Regions from separate parts of the Homo sapiens genome. Here region 1 is linked to region 2. Evidence: fine-mapped QTL for protein levels in blood plasma. A gene starts in region 2. The other region holds a variant in brackets. All regions are shown on one strand. Distances are from middle to middle.

Region 1 (8,320 bases), 17 kb before region 2:
TGCCTCAGCCTCCCAAGTAGCTGGGATTACAGGCACCTGCCACCACGCCTGACTAATTTTGGTACTTTAAGTAGAGACGGGGTTTCACTATGTTGGCCAGGCTGGTCTTGAACTCCTGACCTCAGGTGATCCACCTGCCTCGGCCTCCCAAAGTGCTAGGATTATAGGCGTGAGCCACTGCACCCGGCCCCAGCCTGTTCATTATTAAGCGCTGACGAGCACCCCACTGCTAGCCACTGCCGTGAACGCCATCACCCGGCTGTGTGAGCTGCAATTTACGACCTGAACTTTGCCACTAAGAACGCTCCCACTGAAAGGTGAAGACCTGCCGGGCTGGGCGCGGTGGCTCAGGCCTGTCATCCCAGCACTTTGGGAGGCTGAGGCAGGTGGATCACCTGAGGTCGGGAGTTCGAGACCAGCCTGACCAACATGGAGAAACTCCGTCTCTACTAAACACACAAATTTAGCGGGGCGTGGTGGTGGGCACCTGTAATCCCAGTTACTCAGGAGGCTGAGGAAGGAGAATCCCTTGAACTCAGGAGACAGAGGTTGCGGTGAGCCAAGATCGCGCCACTGCACTCTAGCCTGGGCAACAAGAGCAAGATTCCTTCTCAAAAAAAAAAAAAAAAAAAAAAAGGCCGGGCACCGTGGCTCATGCCTGTAATCCCAGCACTTTGGGAGGCCGAGGCGGGCGGATCATGAGGTCAGGAGATCGAGACCATCCTGGCTAATATGGTGAAACCCCGTCTCTACTAAAAATACAGAAACAAAATTAGCCGGCTGTGGTGGCGGGCGCCTGTAGTTCCAGTTACTCGGGAGGCTGAGGAACGAGAATCACTCGAACCCGGGAGGTAGAGGTTGCGGTGAGCCGAGATGGTGCCATTCCACTCTAGCCTGGGCAACAAGAGCAAGACTCCATCTCAAAAAAAAAAAGAAAAGAAAAAAAAGGTGAAGACCCCCATGTACAGCCATGTCCCACTGGACTCCGGATCCCACAGAACGTCAGTGCTACAGGCTGGGGTGCGGTCACTGCCTCATCCTCACCTCCTAGCATGAGGTCTGGTATACACTAGGCACTCAATAACTGCTGAATAAAGGCAGAAATCTGCCAGGTGCAGTGGCTGTCTTCTGTGATCTCAGCACTTTGGAAGGCCGAGGAGGGAGGATCGCTGGAGCCCAGGAGTTCGAGACCAGCCTGGGCAACATAGCAAAACCCCACCTATAAAAATAAAATAAAATAAAGGCAGAAATCATCAGAGCTTCCCAGGAGACCGGCCTTCCTCGCTGTCCCCACAGCCCTGAGGTCGGCCCTGGGTTTGGAGATGGGAAGACTGGGGTTTGCGGGGTGGGGGCCGGAGGCGAGCTGCGGGTCTCGAGTGCCGCTGTGACCTCGGTTCCTCGGAAAGCTCCCCACACATGCTGGGCCACGTGGAGGCTGGGTAAACTGAGGCACAGAAGGGTCAATTGCCTTCCCGAGGTCACTTGCAGCCCCAGAGCTGTCTCCTCCTCTCCCTGTTTCCGGACTAGGGGACAATGATTATTATCAACATGATTATTACCAGCCACCACCTGAGACCATCGATTTCTCAGAAACGCCCGCCTGGGCTCCAGGCGTTGCTGGTGGGGCCTCCCGACCACAGGCCACAGCCAGGCTCCCCCTTTCCGGCCGTTGGCTGAGGGTGGGAGCCACGGCCCGAAGACCTCTGCGGGGAGACGCCAGCCTGCGTCTGCCATGGGGCTCGGGTTGAGGGGCTGGGGACGTCCTCTGCTGACTGTGGCCACCGCCCTGATGCTGCCCGTGAAGCCCCCCGGTGAGGAGCCCCCCGGGATCCCCACCCAGGCCCCCGCCAAGTCCCCGTACGGGGGCCACACCCGGGAACCCCCAGTCCCGGGAGAACCCTGGGGAGAGCTCCACCTGCTCCATCTGCCGAGCCCCCGTGGCTGCCTCTGCTGGAAATGGATGGAAATCCGGCCGGGGTCTCTGCCCAGCCCAGCCCTGGATCTCCCGGGCTCGGGAGCCCCTCCCAGCGCATCTGGGGGGCTTGTCTGGGCTCTGTCTCCAGCTCTCTGGGTCTCTCCGTCTCTAATCTCACCCCCTGTCTCTGTCTTGGCCGCTACTTCTCCCCCTGCCCTGACCCCAGCCCCGTCATCCGTTCCTCCCGCCTCGTCCCTGACTCAGGCCGTCCCTCCAGCAGGCTCCTGGGGGGCCCAGATCATCGGGGGCCACGAGGTGACCCCCCACTCCAGGCCCTACATGGCATCCGTGCGCTTCGGGGGCCAACATCACTGCGGAGGCTTCCTGCTGCGAGCCCGCTGGGTGGTCTCGGCCGCCCACTGCTTCAGCCACAGGTGAGCTCACCTGTCGGGCCCCTTCTTTCTGGACACCGTATCCCGACATGAGGGGGACTCCAGGCTGGTGGGGGAGCTGGGGGCGCCGTGGCTCCTGCAGGAGGGGGAGTCTCAGCAGGGGCTGGATTTAAAGGGCAACAAAGGGAAAACAGGAGGATAAGGCAGGGAGGCAAAAGAAGCACAGAAGAAGCAACAGGCGCAACAAGTACATATTCTGTTACTGTAACTGTCACTATGTTCTTTTTTTTTTTTGAGGCAGTCTCGGTTCCCCAGGCTGGAGTGCAACGGTGCAATCTCGGCTCACTGCAACCTCCACCTCCCGGGCTCAAGCGATTCTCCTGCCTCAGCTTCCCGAGTAGCTGGGATCACAGGCGCCCACCACCACACCTGGCTAATTTTTGCATTTTTAGTAGAGACTGGATTTCACCATGTTGGCCAGGCTGGTCTCGAACTCCTGACTTCAAATGATCCACCCGCCTCTGCCTCCCAAAGTGCTGGGATTGCAGGTGTGAGCCGCCATGCCCTGCCTCGTTTTAAACATATTGTTATAATAACTATTAAAATGTATATTGGGGCCAGGGTGGGTGGGTCCCCTCCTGCAGGAGCCCCCACCAGGCACGGGATAGGTTGGTCCTGGGCTGCAGTGTCCCCAGCTCCCCCGCCAGCCTGCAGTCCCCCTCACGTTGGGACACGGTGGATTGTTTGAGGTCAGGAGTATGAGACCAGCCTGGCCAACATGGTGAAACTCTGTCTCTACTAAAAATACGAAAATTAGGCTGGGTGCGGTGGCTCATGCCTGTAATCCCAGCACTTTGGGAGGCCGAGGCAGGAGGATCACGAGGTCAGGAGATCGAGACCATCCTGGCTAATACAGTGAAACCCCATCTCTACTAAAAATACAAAAAAATTAGCCGGATGTGGTGGCAGGCGCCTGTAGTCCCAGCTACCCAGGAGGCTGAGGCAGGAGAATGGCGTGAACCCGGGAGGCGGCGCTTTCAGTGAGCCGAGATCGCGCCACTGCACTCCAGCCTGGGGGACAGAGCGAGACTCTGTCTCAAAAAAAAAATACGAAAATTAGTTGGGCATGGTAGCAAGTGGCTGTACGTATCCCCAGCTACTCGGGAGGCTGAGGTAGGAGAATCACTTGAACCCAGGAGGTGGAGGTGGCAGTGAGCCGAGATGGCACCACTGCACTCCAGCCTAGGGGAAAGAGTGAGATTCTGTCGGAAAAAAAAAAGTTAATTGTGGTTTTTGCCATTTAATTTTTTTCGTGCAATTACTTTTGCACCAACCTAATATTATCACGGGGCCGGCGTGAGCATTAAATGGATTACTGGGCCTCCATTTCATAGATGAGTGGACTGAGGCCCAGACGGGCAGCCGTCACCCCCATCTCACCCACCCCCTCCTCCCCGCAGAGTCCTCCGCACCGGAGCTGTGCTTCTGTGGTCCCAGCTACTTGAAAGGCTGCTGTGGGAGGATCGCTTGAGCCTGGGAGGTCGAGGCTGCAGTGAGCTGTGATCACACCACTGCGGCCTGGGTGACAGAGTGAGACCTTGTCTCAAAAAAAAAAAAAAAAAAAAGGCCGGGTGCGGTGGCTCACGCCTGTAATCCCGGCACTTTGGGAGGCCGAGGCAGGCGGATCACGAGGTCAGGAGATCGAGACTGTCCTGGCTAACACGGTGAAACCCTGTCTCTACTAAAAAAAAATACAAAAAATTAGCCGGATATGGTGGCGGGCGCCTGTAGTCCCAGCTATTCAGGAGGCTGAGGCAGGAGAATGGCGTGAACCCGGGAGGTGGAGCTTGCAGAGAGCCAAGATTGCACCACTGCAATCTTGCCTGGGTGACAGAGCGAGACTCCGTCTCAAAAAAAAAAATTAAAGAAATAAAAAAAGGAGAATATTGAAATTACTGTAGTTAATATTATAATTGAAATAGAACTTATAATAAATATAATAAGTATTATCTTCATTCTAAATATGTTTTTATAATAATGATTCAAATTAATACCACAACTATTG[C/T]AGTTAATTCTATATTGGAGGTAGGAAAAATAATAAACATAATTATTAATTTATTATCATAATATTAAGTTGGGGGCTGGGCACCGTGGCTCACGCCTGTAATCCCAGCACTTTGGGAGGCCGAGGCAGGTGGATCACTTCAGGTCAGGAGTTCGAGACCAGCCTGGCCAACATGGTGAAACCCTGTCTCTACTGAAAATACAAAAATTAGCTGGGAGTGGTGGCGCACGCCTGTAGTCTTAGCTGCTTGGAGGGCTGAGGCAGGAGAATCACTGGAACCCAGGAGGCAGAGGTTGCAGTAAGCCTCGATTGCACTCTAGCCTAGGGGACAGAGTGAGACTCTGTCTCAAAAAAAAAAAAAAAGAAAAAAGGAAAAGAATATTAAGTTGATGCAAAAGTAATTGTTTTTTTTTTGTTTTTTTGAGACGGAGTCTTGTTCTGTCGCTCAGGCTGGAGTGCAATGGTGCAATCTCAGCTCACTGCAACCTCCGCCTCCCAGGCTCAAGCAATTCTCCTGCCTCAGCCTCCCGAGTAGCTGGGATGACAGGCATGTGCCACCACACCTGGCTAATTTTGTATTTTTAGTAGAGACGGGGTTTCTCCATGTTGATCAGGCTGGTCTTGAACTCCCGACCTCAGGTGATCCACCCTCCTCACCCTCCCAAAGTGCTGGGATTACAGGCGTGAGCCACCGTGCCCGGCCTGGGCCTCCGTTTCATAGATGAGTGGACCGAGGCCCAGGACGGGCAGCCCTCACCCCCGTCTCACCCACCACCTCCTCCCTGCAGAGACCTCCGCACTGGCCTGGTGGTGCTGGGCGCCCACGTCCTGAGTACTGCGGAGCCCACCCAGCAGGTGTTTGGCATCGATGCTCTCACCACACACCCCGACTACCACCCCATGACCCACGCCAACGACATCTGCCTGCTGCGGGTGAGCCCCGGGGGTGGATCTGACGTATGTTTAGTTTTTGAGACAGTCTCTCGCTCTGTCGCTCGGGCTGGAGGGCAATGGCGCAATCTCGGCTCACTGCAACCTCAGCCTCCCGGGTTCAAGTGATTCTCCTGCCTCAGCCTCTCAAGTACATGGGATTACAGGTGCGCGCCACCAAGCCCATCTAATTTTTGTATTTTAGTAGAGACGGGGTTTCACCATGTTGGCCAGGCTGGTCTCAAGCTCCTGACTTCAAATGATCCACCTGCCTCGGCCTCCCAAAGGGCTGGGATTACAAGCGTGAGCCACCGAGCCCGGCCTACTTTTCTTTTCTTTTCTTTTTTTTTTTTTTTGAGTCAGAGTCTCGAACTGTCACGGGGGCTGGAGTGCAATGGCGCCATCTCGGCTCACTGTAACCTCCGCCTCCCAGGCTCAAGTGATTCTCCTGCCTCAGCCACCCAAGTAGCTGGGATTACAGGCACTCGCCACCAGACCTGGCTAGTTTTTTGTGTTTTTAGTAGAGATGGGGTTTCACTATGTTGGCCAGGCTGGTCTCGAACTCCTGACCCAGTGATCCACCCACCTCAGCCTCCCAAAGTGTTGGGATTACAGGCGTGAGCCATCGTGCCTGGCCATTTTTTTTTTCCAGGCTTAATTCACTTTATTTTTCGTGTATAAAACCCTATGTTGTAACCACAGCTGGAGCCGGGCGTCTGCACGGAGACTCTGGTGTGAGTCTTCACAAGATGGCCAGTGAATACCTGAAAGAGAGACTTGGGGAATACAGAGGTCAGGGGTCAGGCAGCTGTAGGTCTTAGAGAGGATATCAGAGGCGGCCTTGGCAAAGTGGCCCAGGGTGGCAGTGCAGCCCCTGGCTAAGGTGTAGCAGTCACCGATACCAGCCATCATGAGCAGCTTCTTGAGCACAGGCGCCCAGACGATGCCAGCGCCCCGGACACGGGGATCAGGCACACCAGCGCAGAGCCGCAGCGGCCTGTCACCTTGCCAGGGACGGTGTAGGGCTTGCCGATCTTGTTCCCCCAGTAGCCTCTGTGCATGGGGACAACGGAGAGCTTGGCCAGGATGACGGCCCCGATGATGGCAGTGGCTACCTCCTTGGAGCACTCAACACCCAGACCGACGTGGCCATTGTAGTCCCCGGTGGGAACAGACGCCTCGAACCTGGTGCGCTGGCCGGTGCGGATCTGCTTCTGCACCGGCATAATCTCCAAAACCTCGTCCTGGAGAGAGGCCCTCAGGAAAAGGTCAATGATCTCAGATTCCTTGATGGGCAGGGAGAAGAGACAGATCTCCTCCAGGGACATGATCTTTATGTCCTTGACCAGGCGGCCCAGCTTGGTGACAGGCGTCTACTCCTTATCCTCTGTCTTGCCTCTGTGAGCTCCGCGGCCCCAGCCCGGAAGCCAGTGCCGAAGCCTCGGGGGAAGCCAGCGCCGTTCCCCATCCCAGGGCCGCCCCACTGCACCGACGTCATCCGCCGTTTAGTGTTTTCCAGGAGAAGCAGCCCTGGGCTATTTTTTTTTTTTTCAGACAGTATCTCCCTGTGTCCCCAGGCTGGAGTGCAGTAGCACGATCTCGGCTCACTGCAGCCTCTGCCTCCCAGGTTCAAGCGATTCTCCTGCCTCAGCCCCCCGAGTAGCTGGGATTACAGGCGCCCGCCACCACGCCCGGCTAATTTTTGTATTTTTAGTAGAGATGGGGTTTCACCATGTTTGCCAGGATGGTCTCGATCTCTTGACCTCGTGATCCGCCCACCTCTGCCTCCCAATCCTGGCCTATTTTTTGAGACGGAGTCTCACTTTGGCACCTGGGCTGGAGTAAAGTGGCACAGTCAGGGCTCACTGCAACCTCCATCTCCCGGGTTCAAGCGATTCTCCTGCCTCGGCCTCCCGAGTAGCTGGGATCACAGGCACCCACCACCACACCTGGCTAATTTTTGTATTTTTAGTAGAGATGGGATTTCACCATGTTGGCCAGGCTGGTCTTAACTCCGGTCCTCAAGTGATCCGCCCACCTTGGTCTCCCAAAGTGTCGGGATCACGGGCGTGTACCACTGCGCCAGGCGAATTTTTATATTTTTAGTAGAGACGGGGTTTCACCATGTTGCCCAGGCTGGTCTTGACCTCCTGGACTCAGGCAATCCTCCTGCCTCAGCCCCGCAAAGTGCTGGGATTACAAACCTGAGCTGCTGCGCCTGGCCTGACTTAGGTTTTAAAGACAGTTGGACGTCAGGTCCCATTCCTCCTGTGCCCTGGACCCCCCAGTGGCTCCCACCTCCTGCAGGACAAATCCTCCTGGTGCCCACAGGCCCTGCTAATCCATGCCTGTCACCTTTCTGACTCGAGGCCAGCAGACCTCCCGGATGGGCCATCCCATCCCCAGCACAGTCTCCGCTCCGAGCTCTGCACCAGCTGTACCCAGTGCACCAGTTCCCCAGACACCGCGAGCCTTTCCCCTCACGCCTGTCAAGTCTTTGCTCAAATGTTACCTTCCCAGGAGGCCGCCCTGGACCACATACCCCCTCCCTGCAACCCTGTTCCAGCCCCGTCATCACCTGCTAACCCCTGGACCACCCTTCCGGCCCCGTCATCTCCTGCTAACCCCTGGACCACCCCGTCGTCACCTGCTAACCTGTGGACCACCCTTCCAGCCCCGTCGTCACCTGCTAACCCCTGGACCACCCTTCTAGCACCGTCGTCACCTGCTAACCCCTGGACCACCCTTCCGGCCCCGTCGTCACCTGCTTGTCACCTGCTAACCCCTGGACCACCCGCTTCCTCATTCCCGCTTCCTCTGAACCTAACGGGCAGGGATTTTTTATCACCTTTATGGCCATTTATGGCACACAGCAGGCGCTCAAAGTTTATGCTGAAATGGAATGAATGTGCCTCTCGGGCCCCTGCCCTGTGTGGAGGAGACGCTTAAAGTCCCTGTGTGGGGCCGGGCGTGGTGGCTCACACCTGTAACCCCAGCACTTTGGGAGGCCGAGGCGGG
Region 2 (8,314 bases):
AGCCTGGGGTGTTCCGCCCTTGCCAGGCGCGAGTCTGGGGCTGCCAGGACCTTCCCCCAGGAGGCGTCGGGGAGGGCGGGGCGCTGGACGGCCCTCCTGGCCTGGGGAGCGATTCCAGGGGAGGGGGCCCCCCACAGCCCTAGGCCTCTGAACCAGGAGCTGCCCCGCAGCCCCGCTGCTCAGACAGGGATATTGAGGTCCTGCTAGGGAAGCTCTCTCTGGGGTCCCCGCCCCCGCTTTCAATGTGAATGCTCATCGCCTCCTAGGCTTATCGCATCTTCCCAAGTCATCATTTTACAGATGGGGAAACTGAGGCCGGGTCGCAGCTATGAGTGCAGGGGCCCAAGCACCTCAGTTTGAAAGCTGCAGCCAGGACCCAGATGACCAACCCCCTTTCTGTTATCTGGGGGTCTGGTAGGGCCTCTGAACACAGCTGTTGAGTTTATGTGCCAGCCTCAGTTTCTCTGTGTGTAAAGTGGGGCTGACGAGGGAGCCCCACTTCCAAGGCAGTGCGGCACTCCTTAGGGGATGGCCAGCGCCCGCCACGCAGCCCTTGCAGGGCATGTGGGCCGCACCTGGGCGGCCCCGGCACAGCGGCTCACAGGCACATCTGGAAATGCTCGGCCAGGGTGGCTTTTATGCGAGCGAGAACGGAAGGGGGCCTGAGTTCCGTCCCCAGGGCCAGATGAGGTTGGGGGTGGGGGGTCCTGGGCCGTCTCATGCCCAGGCCAGGCACTTTTTGAAGACTGTCCTTCTCCCAGAAGCCAGAGGGGGGTCTGGAGGGAGCAGGGGTATGTGGCAGTGAGTTCAGGACCACCCAGCCAGGCTGATCTGGGATTAATCACATCTCAGAGGCCAGCAGAGTTCCTCAGCCTGGCCTTCGGGTCTGCAGCCCTCAGCTTCAGCCTCCCCTTGGCTCCTCTGCCTGACCCCACCCACCAGGACCTAACCTCAAGCCATGTTCTCTCCTGATCCACTCTCCCATACCGGCCCCATCTGGCAAACTCCTAGACATCCCCCAACACCCCAGCTCTAATGCCCACCTCCTTCAAGATGTGCCCCAACAGGCCAGGCATGGTGGCTCACGCCTGTAATCCCAGCACTTTGGGAGGCCAAGGCTGGCAGATCACTTGAGGTCAGGAGTTTGAGACCAGCCTGGCCAATGTGGTGAAACCCTGTCTCTACCAAAAACATAAAAATTAGCCAGGTGTGGTGGCGCGCGCCTGCAGTCCCAGCCCCTGGGGAGGCCGAGGAAAGAGAATCACCTGAACCTCGGAGGCCGAAGTTGCAGTGAGCCAAAATCGCACCACTGCACTCCAGCCTGGGTGACAGAGCGAGGCTCCATCTCAGGAAAAAAAAAAAAAAAAAAAAAAAAAACCATCATCCTCCAGTGCGGAGAATCTTATTCATTCGTTCTGTGCCACTCGCCAACCAAGAGCCCCTAGTCTGATGTGGGAGGCATCCTCTCAAAACAGGGTCCCGAGGCAAATGCTTGTTAAACATGCAGCTGTAACCCCACCGCAGACCCTGGAGTCTGCAGTGAAGGTCCCTGGTGTGGACATTTGGGGTCACAGGCCAGAATGGCAAACCCACCTTCCCAGGAGCTAGGTGCAAGCCAGACATTTATCGACCAGGTGGGAAGAGCCACCCAGGCAGAGAGCTCAGCCCCAGCAAAGGCTGGAGCCACGTGGTCTCTTCCTGAGTCCTGAGCTGCAAGAGGCTGGAGCCTGGGAACCGGGAAGTCCCCCCAGTCCCTCTCTGAGGCTGGGATCCCCCTGCAGCCTCCTACATACCCCTGTGACGGGCTCAGTCCCTGGACGTTCGGCCCTCGACCACCATGACTGTTTGTGGCTGGTCCTGAGCTGAGACGTCTGCCCTGCTTCTGGCCTGAGGTCTCACCTTTGCAGGGAAGGCAGTGGACAAGGCCCAAGAAGCCGAGGAGGTTGATCTTGTTCCCCGGGTGGGTGAGGTTGGACCAGGCGGTGTCAATGTTGCCGGAGGCACAGCACTCGGCCCGGGTGACATCAGTCTGGAGCACCAGGCTGCAGGTGGCCTCCTGGCCCTGCTGGAGCCAGCAAACACCACCTGCGGGCCGGGGAACGGGGTGCTCTCCTGGGCCACTCCTGACACCCAGCTTCTGGCCCGCCCACAGATGCATGCAGGTGGTGCTGAGTAGTTACGCACGGAATGATCTACCCCCACCCAGGAAGAAGGGGCAGAAAACCACATGGGTGTCCCCACCCTGGCTCCAGAACCCTGGAAATGTCTCCTCCCCTCTGAGCTCCACGTGCCCCCCCCCACAGCCTCACCACCAACCCCCACCCACCCCAGGAGGTCCCTTCCCGTACCCTCCAAGCCCCCAGGCCAGGGGCTGGCACCCTGCCCAACCCCTCAAACACCACCAAACACCAGGCACTGGGCATGTCAGGGTCAGCAGGCCCTGGAGCCGCTTCTCCCGCCTCTGCCCTCTGTCTAGACAGCACCCGAGGGCGAGGGCACGCGGAGCCCCGCGCCTGGCAGCCCCCCCACCGCCTGGCCCGCCTCTTACTCACTCCAACTTGGGAACATTCCCCTTGCATGAGCTCACTGTCTCCCCAGGGACGTGGCCTTCGGGGAGGGGGCTCTGCTCTCCCTTTGGCGCAGGGCTGGGGTGGGGTGGGGCTGCAGGGATGGGGGGTGGGGAGCCAGAGAGCCCCCCATTTCTTCCCCCGTCCCTGGGGGCAGGAACGGCCACAGCCCCCATCCCAGAGCGCTTGCTGGTTCACAGACACTGCCAGGGACCAGCTTGTGGAACGCAGCACCTTGGCACCCATCATAGGAGGGGAAACTGAGGCCAGGAGTGGGGCCGTCTCCTGCCTGGCACCTCCCGGCAAGTCCCAGGTGTGAGACTCCATGCCCCGTCTACCCAGGACCCGGGAAAGCTCTCAGCCCCAGCTGGAGGGCCTGGCTCCCGACACCCAGCACTACCTCTCGGCACCAGGACCGACCCGGACGGTCGCGGCTAGAACCCTGGCTTTGCCTGCTACAGGCTGTGTGACCCTGAGCCTCAGTTTCCCCATCTGGAAGACGGAGATGAAGAGAGCTCCGGCACTATCGGGATGGCACAGGTTCAGGGAGGGGAGAGGTAGACACTAAGCGCTCAATAAATGTCAGCGGTCATTGTGATTAGAAACCTCTGCTCTGCTGACCTCTTGGTGACCCTCCTTCAGACCTTCCCGGCTCCAGCTTGCGCCGGACACCGCCCTCGCCCCCGCCGCCGCCGCCGCGCCCCCCGACGTCCCCCCGGCCGCATTCCGCGCAGCCCCACGTGGGTGGCCCGCCCCGCCCGCCCCTCTGGCCGCCCCACTCACCGGGCGCGGGGTTCCCCGAGCCCATGGAGCTCACGAAGCCCACGGCCCAAGCCAGGGCCCCCCAGGGCAGAGGCCAGAGTGGCCCTGGCGCCCCGGGACGCATGGCGAACGCAGAGACGGCAGCGGCACCGACTTCCCAGCGCGCGGCCGGCGCTCCCTATAAAGGTCCCGCGGGCCGCGGGCGGGGCGGGGCGCGGGGCGGGGCGCGGCGCGGGAGTGGCGGGGGCGAGGCCGTGTCCCGCGCGGGGTGGGCAGGCGCCGGGCCCGGCCGCTGCGGGGGGCAGTTGGGGGCGAGCGCCCGGGTCCCCTTCCGGAGCCAGAGAATGCATTTGGGGAGATGTGGCTGGACCCAGGGCGGAACCGGGACAGGGGTGTGGGTTCGAGGTGGTGGCAGCCTTTTGGGTGGATCGAGGGGCCGTCTCCAGGAATTAAAGTGGGTTTGGGGGTCTTCAGTTTCAGGGGTGGCGGTGAGGTAACGGGGACCCAAGAGGAGCACGTCTGTGGATCCCTGCATCCCGTTTCTGTGATTTGCATGTGGTCACTTTCATGGTCCAAGTGTGGTCTGAGCCCCCCAACCCGGCCTCCTTGTTCCCGACCCGCCCCACACACCCAAAACCTCAGCTGGATATGGTTCCCTGCTCACAGCGCGGGCCGCGCACCCGTCCACCTGGCCGCTGGAGCCGGCCTGTGGGTGGGGAGTGGTTGGGTGTGGGACAGAACGGGGTGCGGCCGGGACAGACCCAGAGACACAGCTCCTTCCAGCATCTCGGACAACAGCAGGCCTCGCCCAGCCACGGCCCCCAGGGAGGCCACTGCGTGTGTGTGTGTGTGTGTGTGTGTGTGTGCGCGCGCACGCCTGGCCTTTGTCCTGGGCCCCTGGGCAGCTCTGCCCCATCAGCCCTCCAAGCCTTTGCAGACATTCCCCCAGATCACCTCAACAAGAATGTTTACTAGGTTTTTTCCTCTCCCTCCAAGATTCAGCAAACACTGTTTCCAGCAGAGGCGTTTCCAACAATGTATGACAGCGACATCTGCGTGGGCCTGGAGGCGCTGCGCCCGAGGGGGCTTTCGTGCAGCCAGACACATTTCCTACTCTGGAGCTGATTCTGTCATGGGGGCCTCCAGATTTGTCAGGCGCCCTTGGCGAGCGCAGGGGAGCCCCTCTGTTCCTGCTTCTAGGGCATCAGTGAACATCTCTTTTGGCCAGAGGGACCCTGCGGGGTGCTGGGGTGCCACGGTGACCAAGGCAGACCCCATCACACCCTCACCGAGCTCCTGGTTTGGACAACAAAATGCAGAGACAAATTAATCTATAACTTCAAGGAGTGGTAAATGCTTTCAGGAAAATACAGAAGGTTGAGGTGGTGGAGAGCGGTTGGGTGTCTGCTGGGCATGCCTGTGTCTGGCCACTCGCTGTGCCGGCATTGCCCACCCCGCAGGTGGAAACGGACGTGTCCAGCAGCCCCACGGCACAGCCCCTTCTCTGGCCTGAGTGAGATCTGTGCCCACAGAAGACACACCTGTACCCTTTCCTCCACCTTAGCTGCCCAGCCTGTGTCCCCCAGCAGCCAGTGGCCAGGGGCCAAGTTCTGCCTTAGTGGCACTGAGGGGGGACACCCCGCCGTCTTGACCTGGCCTTGGCCTCTGGCATTTCCCCCGGGAATCTCCCCGGCTTGGGGAGCAGGGCAGGGACGGGACCCTGTATTCTCACTGAGGGGGGACACCCCGCCGTCTCGACCTGGCCTTGGCCTCTGGCATTTCCCCCGGGAATCTCCCCGGCTTGGGGAGCAGGGCAGGGACGGGACCCTGTGTTCTCACTGAGGGGGGACACCCCGCCGTCTCGACCTGGCCTTGGCCTCTGGCATTTCCCCCGGGAATCTCCCCGGCTTGGGGAGTGGGGCAGGCACAGGACCCTGTGTTCTCACTGACGGGGGACACCCCGCCGTCTCGACCTGGCCTTGGCCTCTGGCATTCCCCCGGGACTCTCCCGGGATTGGGGAGTGGGGCAGGGATGGGACCCTGTGTTCTCACTGAGGATGTGCGGGGGCTGGACAGTGTGACCTTGGCCAAGACCTGACCCCGCCGTGGCTTGGCCACTCCGGCCTGGGCTGTGCGAATCAAAGGGTCATTGTCTGGCTGGCGTGGGTTCCGGCCCTCTCCGGGGAAACCGAGGCCAGCTGCCAGTGGCCTCCTGCTCCCGGCTCTGTCTTCCCTAACCCAGAGGCTCTGTGCAGGGTGACCTCTAACAGGTCACTGACCCTTTCCAGAGCGCCGCCTCCTCCTGAGACCCCAGTGATGACCTCCCCTCTCCCGGCTCTGCCCCTCTCCCCACCCTATCCAGGCCCGAGGCTCATCCTAGGACTTCCAGCCCGCAGCCTGGCCCCTGCGGCCCACTTCCTACCCCAGCTGCCATAACACTTCTCCCTGGCTCAGACACCCACCGTGGCTCCTCGTGGCCTCTGCTCACCCCCCAGGCTTCTGTCTCCCTCCAGGTACATCCTGACAGGTAAACAGACAGTGACAATCCAGTGTTGTTCTGTGGCGGAGGATGCCCAGATGGCAAAGGTGCCCCAGGCCTGACCCGGGCCTGGGGGAGACTGAGGAAGGCTTCCCAGAGGAAAGAGACGTTGAGGTTGAGACTCGAACGTCAGACGGAGCGGCAGGGGTGTGCGCTGGAAACAGACGCTTGTGCTGTGAGTGAGGGGGAGAGCAGTGGGGGGTGGTCAGCAGAACGGCGGTCCCAGAGACCATGGGGCCCTCATCCCTAGAACCCGTGGGTGTCCCACCCTCCCTGGCCAAAGGGGCTCTGCAGATGGGACTGAGTTGAGGGCTTTCACACAGGGGTTCATCCTGGGTTATACGGATGGCCCACTGTCCTGGAAGGGTCCGTAGAAGAGGAGATGCCTGGCCGGGCGCGGTGGTTCACACCTGTGAACCACCAACACATTAGGTTCACACCTGTGAACCTCCAACACATTAGGAGGCCGAGGCAGGCAGATCACTTGAGGTCAGGAGTTCGAGACTAGCCTGGCCAACATGGTAAAACCCTGTCTCTACTAAAAATACAAAAAAATTAGGTGGGCCTGGTGGTGTGCGCCTGTAATCCCAGCACTTTGGGAGGCCGAGGCAGGAGGATCACTTGAAGTCAGGAGTTCGAGACTAGCCTGGCCAACATGGTAAAACCCCGTCTCTACTAAAAATACAAAAAAATTAGGTGGGCCTGGTATTGTGCACCTGTAATCCCAGCTACTTGGGAGGCTGAGGCAGGAGAATCACTTGAACCTGGGAGGCAGAGGTTGAAGTGACCCGAGATCGTGCCACTGCACTGCAGCCTGGGTGACAGAGCGAGACTCTGTCTCAAAAAAAAAAAAAAAAAAAAGGAGACGCCTGCCCTCTATGGTTAGAGACAGGATAAGAGAAGGACTTGGCTGCCATTGCGGGATTTGGAGATGGAGGAAGGGGGCTCAAGCCAGGGAATGTGGGCGGCCTCTAGGAGCCTGGAAAGGCGCGGAACAGATTCTCTCCTGGAGCTGCCAGAAGGAATGCAGCTCTGCCAACACCTCGATCTTCTCCCAGCCAGACCCGTGTGGAACTTTTTTTTTTTTTTTTTTGAGACGTAGTCTCGTTCTGTTGCTTAGGCTGGAGTGCAATGGCGCGATCTCGGCTCACTGCAACCTCCGCCCCCGGGTTCAAGCAATCCTTCTGCGTCAGCCTCACGAGTAGCTGGGATTGTAGGCACCTGCCACCACAACTGGCTAATTTTTGTATTCTTAGTAGAGACGCGGTTTCGCCATGTTGGCCAGGCTGGTCTTGAACTCCTGACCTCAGTGATTCACCCGCCTTGGCCTCCCAAAGTGCTGGGGTTACAGGTGTGAGCCACCATGCCTGGCCATTTTTATTTTTTTGAGACAGGGCCTCACTCTGTTGTCCAGGCTGGAGTGCAGAGGTGCGATCTCGGCTCACTGCAACCTCAGCCTCCAGACTAAGTGGGATTACAGGCGCCTCCCACCACACCCGGCTACTTTTTTTTTTTTTTTTTGCAGTGACGGGATTTTGCCATGTTGGTCAGGCTGGTCTCAAACTCCTGACCTCAGGTGATCTGCCCATCTTGGCCTCACAAAGTGCTGGGATTACAGGCATGAGACACTGCGCCCAGCCCGTGTGTTGCTTTAAGCCAGGCAGTTTGTGCAAATTTGTTATAGCAGCCGTGGGTGCCCACTGTGTGCCAGGCCCTGGGACCCTTCTAGGCCTGTTTTCTTTTTCTTTCTTTTTTTTTTTTTTTGAGACAGAGTTTCGCTCTTGTTGCCAAGGCTGGAGTGCAGTGGCGCAATCTCGGCTCACTGCAACCTCTGCCTCCCGGGTTTAAGCAATTCTCTTGCCTCAGCCTCCTGAGTAGCTGGAATTACAGGCATGCACCAGCAGACCCAGCTAATTTTTTGTATTTTTAGTAGAGATGGGTTTCACCATGTTGGCCAGGCTGGTCTCGAACTCCTGACCTCTGGCGATCCAGCTGCCTTGGCCTCCCAAATTGCTGGGATTACAGGCGTGAACCACCGTGCCCAGCCTATGCCTGTTTTCTTATCTGTAACATGGGCACAGACCCCAGTGTTAGAGGTTCCAGGTGGGATGTGGACAGTGCCAGGCGCACAGTAGGGCCATGGCGTGCATAGATTCCTGTTAATTACCCAGTCAATGGGTGCTCGTGCAGAACGGGACCATGGTGAGTCCCCTTTGCTGCTTGCTGGGAGGCTGTGAGGCAGGCGCCCCATTTATAGGGATGAGGTTGGAGGGTGGGAAGTGATTTTCTTGGAGTCACACAGACCTGCAGAGTCAGGACTAGGGTCAGCACCAGGTTCAGAAGCTTCCAGGACCCCTGTGCCTCCCATGGACCACACGACGAGGGCCAGCCTGGGGCTGGTTCCCCCTTTCTGCTCCCACTACTGCACTCCAGCCCGGGTGACAGA

Alleles and levels. Alleles are on the strand shown, and positions count from the first base shown. The strength of an association depends on the size of the effect and on how common the allele is.
For the plasma level of the protein whose gene starts at base 3,485 in region 2, C is the high allele of the variant in region 1 and T is the other (weak association).

The links. PIP is the posterior inclusion probability: the model's chance that the variant is causal. Protein levels are from antibody-based Olink assays in UK Biobank. Linkage for the fine-mapping came from a reference panel and not from the study's own genotypes, which makes the PIPs less certain.
Region 1: its variant is fine-mapped to the plasma level of the FSTL3 protein (UK Biobank, PIP 0.91).

The regions. Positions count from the first base shown.
Region 1 is chr19:688,843-697,162 of GRCh38, reverse strand. PRSS57 (serine protease 57) reads left to right here and starts at 1,711. Exons shown (of 5, transcript NM_001308209.2): 1 at 1,711-1,811; 2 at 2,196-2,349; 3 at 5,161-5,305. The coding sequence starts at 1,733. It also overlaps the pseudogene RPS2P52. The variant C/T (reference allele first, on the strand shown) is at 4,373.
Region 2 is chr19:671,563-679,876 of GRCh38, reverse strand. FSTL3 (follistatin like 3) reads right to left here and starts at 3,485. Exons shown (of 5, transcript NM_005860.3): 1 at 3,351-3,485; 2 at 1,900-2,085. The coding sequence starts at 3,453. RefSeq lists a silencer at 1-174 and an enhancer at 629-1,131.